3 linked regions of the Homo sapiens genome follow. The protein of the gene in region 2 purifies or fractionates together with the protein of the main gene of each other region. This does not show direct contact. Each region holds a gene or a part of one and is shown on either strand. Other genes may lie near its edges. The genes, in order: XRCC4, RNF135 and GTF2H2.

Region 1 (3,757 bases), on a different chromosome or scaffold from region 2:
AAAAATTCCAGAAATAATGCATACATTTTAAATAGCATGCCTTTCTGAGTTGTGATGAAATCTTATTCCATCCTATCCCATTCAGCCCGGGGCCATGAATCATCTCCTTGTTTAGCGTATCCCTGCTGTATAAGCTTCCTGCCTTTTAGTTGCTTGGTTATCAGATTGATGGAGGTGGTATCACAGTGCGTGTGTTCTAGGAATACTTATTTTACTTAATTATTGCTTCAAAGCACAAGAGTAACGACGCTGGCAATTTGGTTATGCCAAAGAGTAGCTGTAAAGTGCCTCTTTTAAGCAAAAAAAGGAAAGTTCTCCACTTAATAAGGAAGAAAAGAAATCCTATGTTGATGTTGTTAAGAACTATGGTAAGAACAAATCTATCTGTAAAATTGTGAATAAGCAAAAAGAAATTTATGCTAGTTTTACTGTCACACCTCAAACTGCCAAACTTATAGCCATAGTGCATTATAAAAGCTTAGTTAAGATAAAAAAGGAATTAAATTTGTGGTTAGAAAATGTGAACAGAAGCATGCTCAGATTGAAGGCAGTTGGATTCAGCCTCCTCACGGGGCCTTGGGATATACACCCTTGGATAAGGAGAGGACTGCTATAAAAGGTTTTAGTATTAAGTTGGTATTGCATTTGTATCACCAGACCACTTTCTCCCCATTTTCTCTTTTTACTTTGTTGCTAGTGTTAATGATAGGGTTGATTTACATTACCTTTTACATTACCTACCTTTTTTCATTCACTGTTATTCACATATATTGAAAGACAATTGTTCTGCTTTTTTCCTCTTATCCTCAGCTAGCCTCCCTAACCTCAGGTAGAGGTTTTTCATGTTCCAGTGTTTGTCCTTTTTTTCTCCCCCCTTGTTTTTATTCCCTTCCCACATGGCTTTTCAATTCAGACTGAAATGTACTTGAGGACCAAAGTTAATACAGTTTTATTCTGTTAGGGATTTTTGTTAAATAAGTAGAGTTTCAGCTGCCCTTGTCACACACAAAAAATAAGATAGATGATAGGTGTTAATCTCCTTGACTAAAATAACCATTTTACTATCTGTGTGTATCCTATAATGTCAACTTGTAAACCTCAAATATACACATTAACATTTTTTAAAAAAAGAAGTTTCACCAAAAAAGACACTTCTATTTAATGTATGTCTTATTTCTTTTACCTTAAGAAATGTTTCTCTTAACCTTTCTCCATTTTCAACCCCATTTGTTTGCTCTTCTCTGCAACAAAAATCCTCTAAAGAGTTTTCTATGCTCCATGTTCCAATTCCTCTTTTTCTACCTCTGCATCTTCATTGGTATATTTAAAAGATATCTTGAACTCAGATGTCCCAGACCGAACTCCTTTCCTCCCAAACCTTTCCCATTCTTTCTCATCTGAATTGATGGCAACTTTATACAGCCAGTTGCTCAGTTAAATCTTTGGAGTCATCCTTGACTCCTTCCTTTCTCTTGTATTCCAACAAATCTGTTGGCTTTTTCTATGAAATATATCTAGAATTCAACAGTTTTCTACTATTTCTGCTATTAGTATACTGATCATCTCTTGCTCAGATTTTTGTTATTACCCACTATCATTTCTTGCCTGGATTATAGTAATTGTGTTCTGTTCTCTCTGCTTTTTTCAGTCCTTGCCTCCCTACAGTCTATTCTCATATGTCAGCCAGAGTGATACTTTTAAAATATAAATAAAAAATTGTGTATTTACATGTAAGATTCTAAATGCAATATGTTATGCTAGATTGGATCCTGAAACAGAAAGAGGTTATTAATGGAAAAACTGGTGAAATCCAAATAAAGTCTATGGTTTAGTTGATAGAAATGTATCAGTGTTGGTTTCCTGGTTTTGATAAATGCACCGTGGTAGTATAAGATGTTAATATTAGAAGAAATTGGGTGAGGGGTATATGAGAACTTTCTATTATCTTTGTAACCCTTCTGTAAATTCAGAATTATTTCAAAATAATATACAGAAGAATAAAACATTACTTTTTTGCTTAAAAACCTTTCGTGAATCATTTGATTCATAGTAGAAGCTAACAGCCTTACGTTGGCCTACAATAGTCTACATCAGTCTTGTCCAACTTACAGCTCACAGGCTGCCTGTGGCCTATGATGGCTTTGAATGCGGCCCACCACAAATTTGTAAACTTTCTTAAAACATTATGAGATTTTTTTTTTTTTGAGCCCTTTAGGTATCATTAGTGTTAGTGTATTTTATGTGTGGCCCAAGACAATTCTTCCTCCAGTGTGGCCTAAGGAAGTCAAAAGATTGGACACCTCTGCTCTACATGATCTGGTCTCCCATTACCTCTCTGACTACATGTCTTTGTATTCTCTCTCCCTTTGTTCCAGCCATACTTACCACCCTGTTTCTTAAGTACACTAGGCCTACTTCTACCACAGGGCCTTTGCACTGACTGCTGCTTCTTTCTAGAATGCTTTTGGATCCATACAGCTATTCCTTCATAGCTTTTACATGTTGTTCAAATGTCACCTTTGCAGTAAAGCATATCCCAACCTCCCTATTTAAATTGAAGCTTTGCAACTTCCATAGCCCCTACCCCTATCTCCTCCACCCTGTTTTATCTCCTCTTTTTACTTCAGCGCTTATCATTATTCTATATATGTATTACATATTTGTTACATGTATTTTTAATTGTGTTCCCCTATTAAAATGTAAAATCCATGAAGGCAGGCATTTTTATCTGTTTTGTTGTCTTATGCCACATTCTAAAGCATTTGTCTGAGGCATAGAAGTACTCAGTAGGTTTTGTTTGAATGAATGACTGACTTGATTGGGTGTTTGAATCTGTAATTTTTTTTTTTTTTTTTTTGAGATGGAGTCTTGCTCCGTTTCCCAGGCTGGAGTGCAGTGGCACAATCTCTACTCACTACAACCTCTGCCTCCTGGGTTCCAGCAATTCTCTCTTCTCAGCCTCCTGAGTAGCTGGGATTACAGGTGCATGCCACCATGCCCAGCAAATTTTTTGTATTTTTAGTACAGACGGGGTTTCACCATGTTGGCCAGACTGGTCTCGAACTCCTGACCTCGTGATCCACCCGCCTCAGCCTCCCAAAGTGCTGGGATTACAGGCATGAAGGTGCTGGGATTACAGGCATGAGCCACCGCATTTGACCATGAACCTGTAATTTTTGATTTGCAGTCTGAAACACTGAATTATTTATCACTTCCATGTATCATGCTATTTCTTGCCTCCAAGTTTTTACTCATGCAGACTCTTCTATTTGGAATGCCCTTCCTTATCTTTCTTCCTCTACCCCTAAGTTGTTTTCACCTGACCATTTCTCTTTAAAGATTCGTATAATATTAGATGTAACTCAAGGAAGCCTTCCCTAAAATGTCAGGCCAGGGTAAGTGCTGCTTTTCAGAGGAGCTCCCTTCCTACCTCTGCATTTTACAAACTTATATTATAATTCTGTTTGGGTGTCTCTATTTCAGTAGAGAGTTGCGAATGTGTCTTACTGATCTTTGGGATATCAAATCCTGGTACATAGGAAGTAATCAGTGAATGTTTTAATGCATTAATGGCATGATCAAGGACACTCAGCTATGAAGCATAGTTTTGATTCCAACCTGGGTCTTTTGAGTGTAAAATCAATGGCTTATTTGCTATACCTTGTTTCTTAGGAAAAAGATGGCTGTCTTTAAAATAATTGAAAGGTACTGTATCCTTTTGATACAAGTAGGAGGGAGTTAATGCATTGTATAGCCC
Region 2 (3,757 bases):
CCAGGATGCTCAGTTCGTTGTCTGGTCCAGATTCTGATAGGGGCCTCTGATTCTGCAGGCTTCTGACAATGTCTACAAGATGTTCCACCAGCTCTGTCAGCTCCTGAGCAACTTCTGTGATGCTCTTCTCTACTGCCACCTTCAAAATAGCAAAGTTCAGGTCCTGGGTTCTATAAAACTGGACCCAGGAACCACCACTAGACAGAGGGAATCATAAATACTGTGGTAATGGCATAAAAACAGACATACAGACCGATGGAATACAATAGAGTACCCAGAAATAAACTCTCACATATATAGTTAAATGATTTTTGACGAAGGTGCCAAGACCATTCAATGGAGAAAGGACAGTTTTTTCAACAAATTGTACTGTGAAAACTGGATATCTATATGCAAAAGAATATGGCTGGACCCTTACCTAACATCATATACAAAAACTAACTCAAAATGGATCAAAGACCTAAATGTAAGACCTAAAATAATACAGCTGTTAGAAGAAAACATAGGGCAAAATTTATGACATTGGATTTGGCAATGATTTATTGTATATGTCACTAAAAGCACAGGCAACAAAAGAAAAAAGGAGACAAATTGGACTACATGAAATGTTTAAACATTTGTGCATCAAAAGACACGAACAATAGAGTAAAAAGGCAATCCACAAAAATGGAAGAAAATATTTGCAAGTCATACATCTGATAAGGCATTAATACTGAGAATATACAGAGAATTTCTAAAACTCAACAATAAAAACATATCACTGCCGCTTGTTTGGTTGGTAAAACAAACAAGCAAAAACCCACAAACAACTGAATTTTGAAATGGGCAAAGAACTTGAATAGCTATTTCTCCAAAGAAGATATACAAATCACCAATAAGCACATGAATAGACACTCAAGATCACTAATCACTAGGGAAATGCAAATCAAAACATACAGTGAGATACCACCTCACACTCATTAGGTTGGCTACTATCAAAAAAAAAAAAACCAAAATAACAAATGTTGATGGTGTGGGAAGATTGGAACCCTCTGCACTGTTGGTGGGAATGATATAGCCACTATGGAAGACAGAATGGTGGCTGCTCAAAATATTAAAAATAGGCCAGGCGCAATAGCTCATGGCTGTAATCCCAGCACTTTGGGAGGCCGAGGCGGGTGGATCACCTGAGGTCAAGAGTTCGAGATCATCCTGGCCAACCTGGTGAAACCCCATCTCTACTAAAAATACAAAAATTCACCAGGTGTGGTTGCAGGCACCTATAATCCCAGCTACTTGGGAGGCTGAAGCAAGAAAATCTCTTGAACCCAGGAGATGGAGGTTGCAGTGAGCCAAGATCATGCCACTGCATTCAAGCCTGGGCGACAGGGCCAGACTCCATCTCAAAAAAAAAAAAAAAAAATATATATATATATATATATATATATATATATATGTACATATATGTAATTAGAATTACCATATGATTTAGCAATTCCACTTCCGGATATATAAGAATTGAAAACAGGATCTCAAAGAGATTCATAAACTCATGCCCATAGCAGTATTATTCCCACTAGCTAAAACATGGAAGCAACCCAAGTATCTGCAGACAAATGAATGAATAAGCAAAAAGTGGCATATACATACAATAGAATACTACTCAGCCTTAAAAAGGAAGGGAACTCTGACACATGCTACAACATAAATAACCCTTGAAGACATTATGCTAAGTGAAATAAGCCAGTCACAAAAAGACAGATACTGTATGATTCAACTTATATGAGGTATTTAGAGTAGTCAAAATCAGAGACAGAAATTAGAATGATGGTTGCCAGAGGCTGGGGGAAGAGGAAATGGAGAATTTTAATGTCCTCCTAGAATTCCACTTTTGCGAGTTGAAAAGAGTTATGGTACCCTGAAGAACCAGTCATGTTAATTTAAAATTTTTTAAAGTTATGGAAATGATGGTAGTGATGGTTTCAAAACATTGTGAATGTATTTCATATCACCAAACTGTATACTTAAAAATGGTTTAGGGCCAGAGAGAAGTGGGGGAAAGCCAGAAGACTTAAGGGTGGAGAGGGCAGAGCAAGATAGCCAAATAGAAGGCTCCATTGATCATCCCTCCCACAAGAACACCAAATTTAACAACTACACAAAAAAGCACCTTCATAAGAACCAAAAATCAGGGGTACTTACAGTACCTGGTTTTAACTTTATATTACTGAAACAGGCACTGAAGAGGGTAGGAGAAACAGTCTTGAATTGCCAATGCAACCCATATCCCATGTGTCAGGGGCCACATGCACAGAGAATCTGTGCACTCAGGAAAGGGAGAGCATGGTGATAAAGAGAATAGAAAGACTTTGCCTTGTCGCTTCACAAAGCAAAACTGGGCTGAATTCAGCTGACGCCTACCCACAGAGGGAGCATTTAGATCAGTCCTAGCCAGAGAGGAATCAAATCACCCACCCCAGTTATTGGAACCTGAGTTCTGGCAAGCCTCTCCACTGTGGGCTGAAGTGCTCTGGGGCTCTAAATAAACTTGAAAGGCAGTCTAGGCCACAAGGACTGCAACTCCTAGGCAAGTCCTAGTGCTGAGATGGGTCTCTGGACCGGCCCCGAGCCTGGGTGAATGTGCCACCATGAAGGGAAGGACACAAGCCTGGCTGGCTTTGCCATCTGCTGATTATAGAGCCCTAGGTCCTTGAGTCAATATAGGTGGTAGCCAGATAGTGGTTAACAAGGGGCTTGGGTAAGGCACAGTGCTGTGTTGGCTTTAGGTCTGACCCTGTGCAGTTCTAGTGGTCATGGCCACAAGGTGCTTCTGTCACCCCACCTCCAGCTCCAGGCAGCTCAGCACACAGACAGACTGTTTTGGAGAACGTATGAGAAGAGAACAAGAATCTCTGCCTGGTAATCCAGATAATTCTTCTGGATCTTATACAAGACCACCAAGGTGGTACCTCTAGTAGTCTGCAAGAGTCACAGCTTTACTGGGCTTGGGGTGCCCCCTAATGCAGATACGGCTTAGATCACAACGCCCAAGTCCTTTCAAATTCCTGGAAAGCCTTCCCAAGAAGGACAGGTACAAACAAGCCCAGACTGTGAAGACTACAATAAATAACTAACTCTTCAATGCCCAGGCACTGACAAACATCCACGAGCATCAAGACCATTCAGGAAAACATGACCCCACCAAACTAACTAAATAAGTCACCAAGAGCCAATTCAGGAGAAACAGAAATATGTGACCTTTCAGACAGAGAATTCAAAATAGCTGATTTAAGAAAACTCGGAGACATTCAAGATAACAGAGAAGGAATTCAGAATTCTATCAGGTAAATTTAACAAAATGATTGAAATAATTAAAAATCGGTTAAGAGTCATCACCACGCTCTCCCTCTCCCTCTCCCTCTCCCTCCACGGTCTCCCTCTGATGCTGAGCCAAAGCTGGACGGTACTGCTGCCATCTCGGCTCACTGCAACCTCCCTGCCTGATTCTCCTGCCTCAGCCTGTCGAGTGCCTGCGATTGCAGGCGCGCGCCGCCACGCCTGACTGGTTTTCGTTTTTTTTTGGTGGAGACGGGGTTTCGCTGTGTTGGCCGGGCTGGTCTCCAGCTCCTAACCGCGAGTGATCCGCCAGCCTCGGCCTCCCGAGGTGCCGGGATTGCAGATGGAGTCTCGTTCACTCAGTGCTCAATGGTGCCCAGGCTGGAGTGCAGTGGCGTGATCTCGGCTCGCTACAACCACCTCCCAGCCGCCTGCCTTGGCC
Region 3 (3,757 bases), on a different chromosome or scaffold from region 2:
TTCACGTCCTGGGCAGGACAGAGAGGGAAGGTGTAGGATCTCATCACGCTACCCAGAATGGCACACAACTTAAATCTTATGAATTATTTATTACTGAAGTTTTCAATTTAATATTTTCAGACCAAGAGTAACTAAAACTGGAAAGTGAAACTGCAGATAAGGGGGGATTACTATAATTTAACCTCACAGTAATTCAGAGTCATAATAATCATGAACATTAATATTGCATACCATTTAATTAAAATGATAGCTTGTAGATTTTTAAGTTGTGGTGACCAGTTTTCACCTACACTAAATAGACCTTTTTATGCTTTCTGCAGCAATTTTATCAGTTAGTTATAGCTTTCCTGCTTATATTTTCATTGTTATCTTCTCAGCTCTCACTGGTAGACCCTGCTACTGTACTTACCTCTATTACATGTGTTGCCTCCTTCTCATCCACTTCAAAACTAGAAAAATATCTATTATATAAAGGTATAAGTCTGAGCCAGGGCGGACTATCCAGAGATAAAATATATAAGCTTTAGGGAGGCTGAGGTGGGCGGATCGCTTGAGGCCAGGAGTTCAAGACCAGCCTGGCTAACATGGTGAAACCCCATCTGTACTAAAAATACAAAAATTGGCTGGGCATGGTGGCACACACCTGTAATCCCAGCACTAGGGAGGCTGAGGCACAAGAATCACTTGAACCCAGAGGTGGAGGTTGTAGTGAGCTGAGATCACGCCACTGCATGCCAGCCTGGGTGACAGAGCAAGACTCTGTCTCGAAAAAAAATATATATATACGTGTGTGTGTGTGTGTGTGTGTGTGTGTGTGTGTGTGTGTATATATATAATAGATATATAAGCTTTAACTTATATATGTAAGTTTAACATATATATAAGCTTTATATATATATGTATAATAAATTATATATATAATATGTATATAAAGCTTATATATATATATAAGCTTTAACTATACCAAGTATTTCCTTTGGGGTCTTAGCTCTATTCCATATAGCTGAACTTGCCATATCTATTAATTTACAGATATATGACATTGGTGCAAAAGGAACTGTGGTTTTGGCCATTACTTTCAAAATAAATTAATAAATGTTAATAAAGGTACAACCAACTTACAATTATTATACTATATTAAATCTCATTTTAATAAAATATTTTTTCATCAACATATTTTTGTACTATTGATACTGCCGACAGTTTTAAATTATATTTTTATAAAACCTTTAACAATATCTTACTAAAATGTAAAATAAAGATTACTAACCAACACCACACTAAACATCATAAATAACACTACATAATTCTTGTACTTAACAATTTTGTTATAGCTGGGTTTATGGGCCCCATATTAACACATCACTTCAGCTTAACTCATTTAAAAAACTTCTAATTCAATTATACATAATGTATAATACTAACTTTAGAGTCTGCATAGCTATGCTTAGGGAATTATAAAGAGATGGCTCTCCATGGCAGGTCATATCCACAGCTTTCTTCAAAGACGTTATATGTTTTCTTGGGTTTCCTAAAATAGAAATAAGATCTTTAAATAAAATCCTATATATTAAAAAAGTTTATGTTTCTCTCAAAATTTACATATCTATGATGTTAAAGAACAGAATCCTTTCAATGTATATTTCTGTTGGAATTTTATCTGCAATATTTTGTAAACACTCTCACTTCATACTGAAAAACAGAATACAAATAATCTCCTTATAGACTAGCATACATATTTTAAAATAATGCTAACCTAGAGTGCATTTTTTTACTCTTAATATTTCCATATTTCATCATTTTTAAGACCAATACATTTTCACATTTAACATCTCTGAAATCAGCATGTGTTTAATAATCACTGGTAGCCAGCAGCACTTGTAACATAGTCTTTGCCTGTTCATATGTGAACCTACAAATAGGTCTTCATATGTTGTTGCTTCAATTGCATTATGTACATTGTCCTCTTCATGGTGAGTTTAACTGCCATTTAAAATGTTTTTAAGGCCAGGCGCGGTGGCTCACGCCTGTAATCCCAGCACTCTGGGAGACCACGGCAGGCAGATAACCTGAGGTCAGGAGTTTAAGACACACCTGGTCAACATGGTGTAAATCCCATCTGTAGTAAAAATGCAAAAATTAGCTGGGTATGGTGGCATACACCTGTAATCCCAGCCACTAGGGAGGCTGAGGCACAAGAATCACTTAAACCCAGAAGGTGGAGGTTGCAGTGAGCTGAGATTGCACCACTGCACTCCAGCCTGGGCAACAACAGCGAAACTCCATCTCAAAAAACAAACAATAAAATGTTTTTAGAAATGTTGTTAATACAAAAGGCTATATTTTTATGTAGAAAGGTGTGGAACACAGCAGTGAGGCATAAATTTATTATAATGAATCAAATATTGATGGAAGAATGCATGCAATTCCGTATTTTTCTTGAGGGAAGAAATCAAGAACTTTACAAGACCTAAGAAACGAATATTCCCACAAACAGACGAAGCTGTGTTATCTTACCAAATAGCATCTGAAAAGATTGTCTATCTTATGCTAAGCAATTCAAATGAAGGGGGGAGAAGCTGCCAAATCCTTTTTTTTCTTTTTAATATAATATTTTTTTATATTATTTATATTTAGATTATATATATATCTGTTGCCAGGCTGGAGTGCAATGGGGCAATTTTGGCTCAATGCAACTTCCACCTCCCAGGCTCAAACCATCCTCCCACCTCAACCTCCCAAGTAGCTGGGACTACAAGTGCCCAGCACCACACTTGGCTAAATTTTTTTGTATATTTTTGGTAGAGACAGGGTTTCACCATGTTGTCCAGGCTAGTCCTGAACTCCTGGATTCAAGCAATCCTCCCGCCTCAGCCTCTCAAAGTGCTGGGAGTACAGGTGTAAGTCACCACGCCTGGCCCCCAAATTTGAGATGTCTGTACATGTCAAATTACCAAGAAGCTAGTATAGCCAACTCATATATCATTTGATACTGTGTCAAAGTTTAACTACTAGGACTTTTCCTTCTTAATGGCTTATAAAAGTATCTTGTAATTGATGGAATCTGAGTTTCAATGAAATATAGTATTCCGTAAACATTTTCCATTTCAGCACTGTCTTCGTATCAATCAATAACCTAAGTATCATTAAATTGATTTTGTCATAAAATATAATCCATCAAAGCATACTATTAAACATTTAATTTTTAATCTGTCACTATTATACATAATGTTACAAAGAGTATCTTTGTAGAGTGATCATTCTCCTTCCATAACATTCCCTAAATATAATTTCAGGAACAATTTTTATGCTTTTCTAAAAAATATTGAACTAATTTGTAAGACTATCAGCACTATAAATAACAGTTTCTCTGTGGTTCCACAAGCAACATATTGCTTTGGAAACTTAATTTTGCTCATTTAAAATATATTAAAAAATAAAATGTTATGTAATTGGGTGGAGTTTTTTTGGATTACTAGTTTCCCTGATTTAATTTCTGGGTTTCTTCTGTGTGAATCATGTCTTCTTTGTCTATTCATCAACTTGGAGCTCCCTTGAGTTTTTACTCATCTGAGTAAGTTTTAAAATATTAACCATTTGTAATATTTAATATTTACTGCAAGTATTTTAGATTCATAAATTTTAGAGATGAAAAGTACCTCGCTAAGCAGTCCAAATCCCTCACTTCATAAGTGAGAAAATTAATCTAAACAAGTGAAATGACTTGCCCAAAGACATATGCCTGCTTAACTGCAGG

What was found.
Region 1: the proteins of RNF135 (region 2) and XRCC4 purify together in Homo sapiens (affinity purification with mass spectrometry; 2 studies listed by BioGRID and IntAct, with this or other methods). This does not show direct contact.
Region 3: the proteins of RNF135 (region 2) and GTF2H2 purify together in Homo sapiens (affinity purification with mass spectrometry; 2 studies listed by BioGRID and IntAct, with this or other methods). This does not show direct contact.

The regions. Positions count from the first base shown.
Region 1 is NC_000005.10:83,080,538-83,084,294, forward strand, and holds part of XRCC4 (DNA repair protein XRCC4), read left to right. Parts: intron 1-3,757.
Region 2 is NC_000017.11:30,980,999-30,984,755, reverse strand, and holds part of RNF135 (E3 ubiquitin-protein ligase RNF135), read right to left. Parts: intron 140-3,757; coding exon 1-139.
Region 3 is NC_000005.10:71,053,927-71,057,683, forward strand, and holds part of GTF2H2 (general transcription factor IIH subunit 2), read right to left. Parts: intron 1,532-3,757; coding exon 1,426-1,531; intron 1-1,425. UniProt on the Homo sapiens protein: Component of the general transcription and DNA repair factor IIH (TFIIH) core complex, which is involved in general and transcription-coupled nucleotide excision repair (NER) of damaged DNA and, when complexed to CAK, in RNA transcription by RNA polymerase II.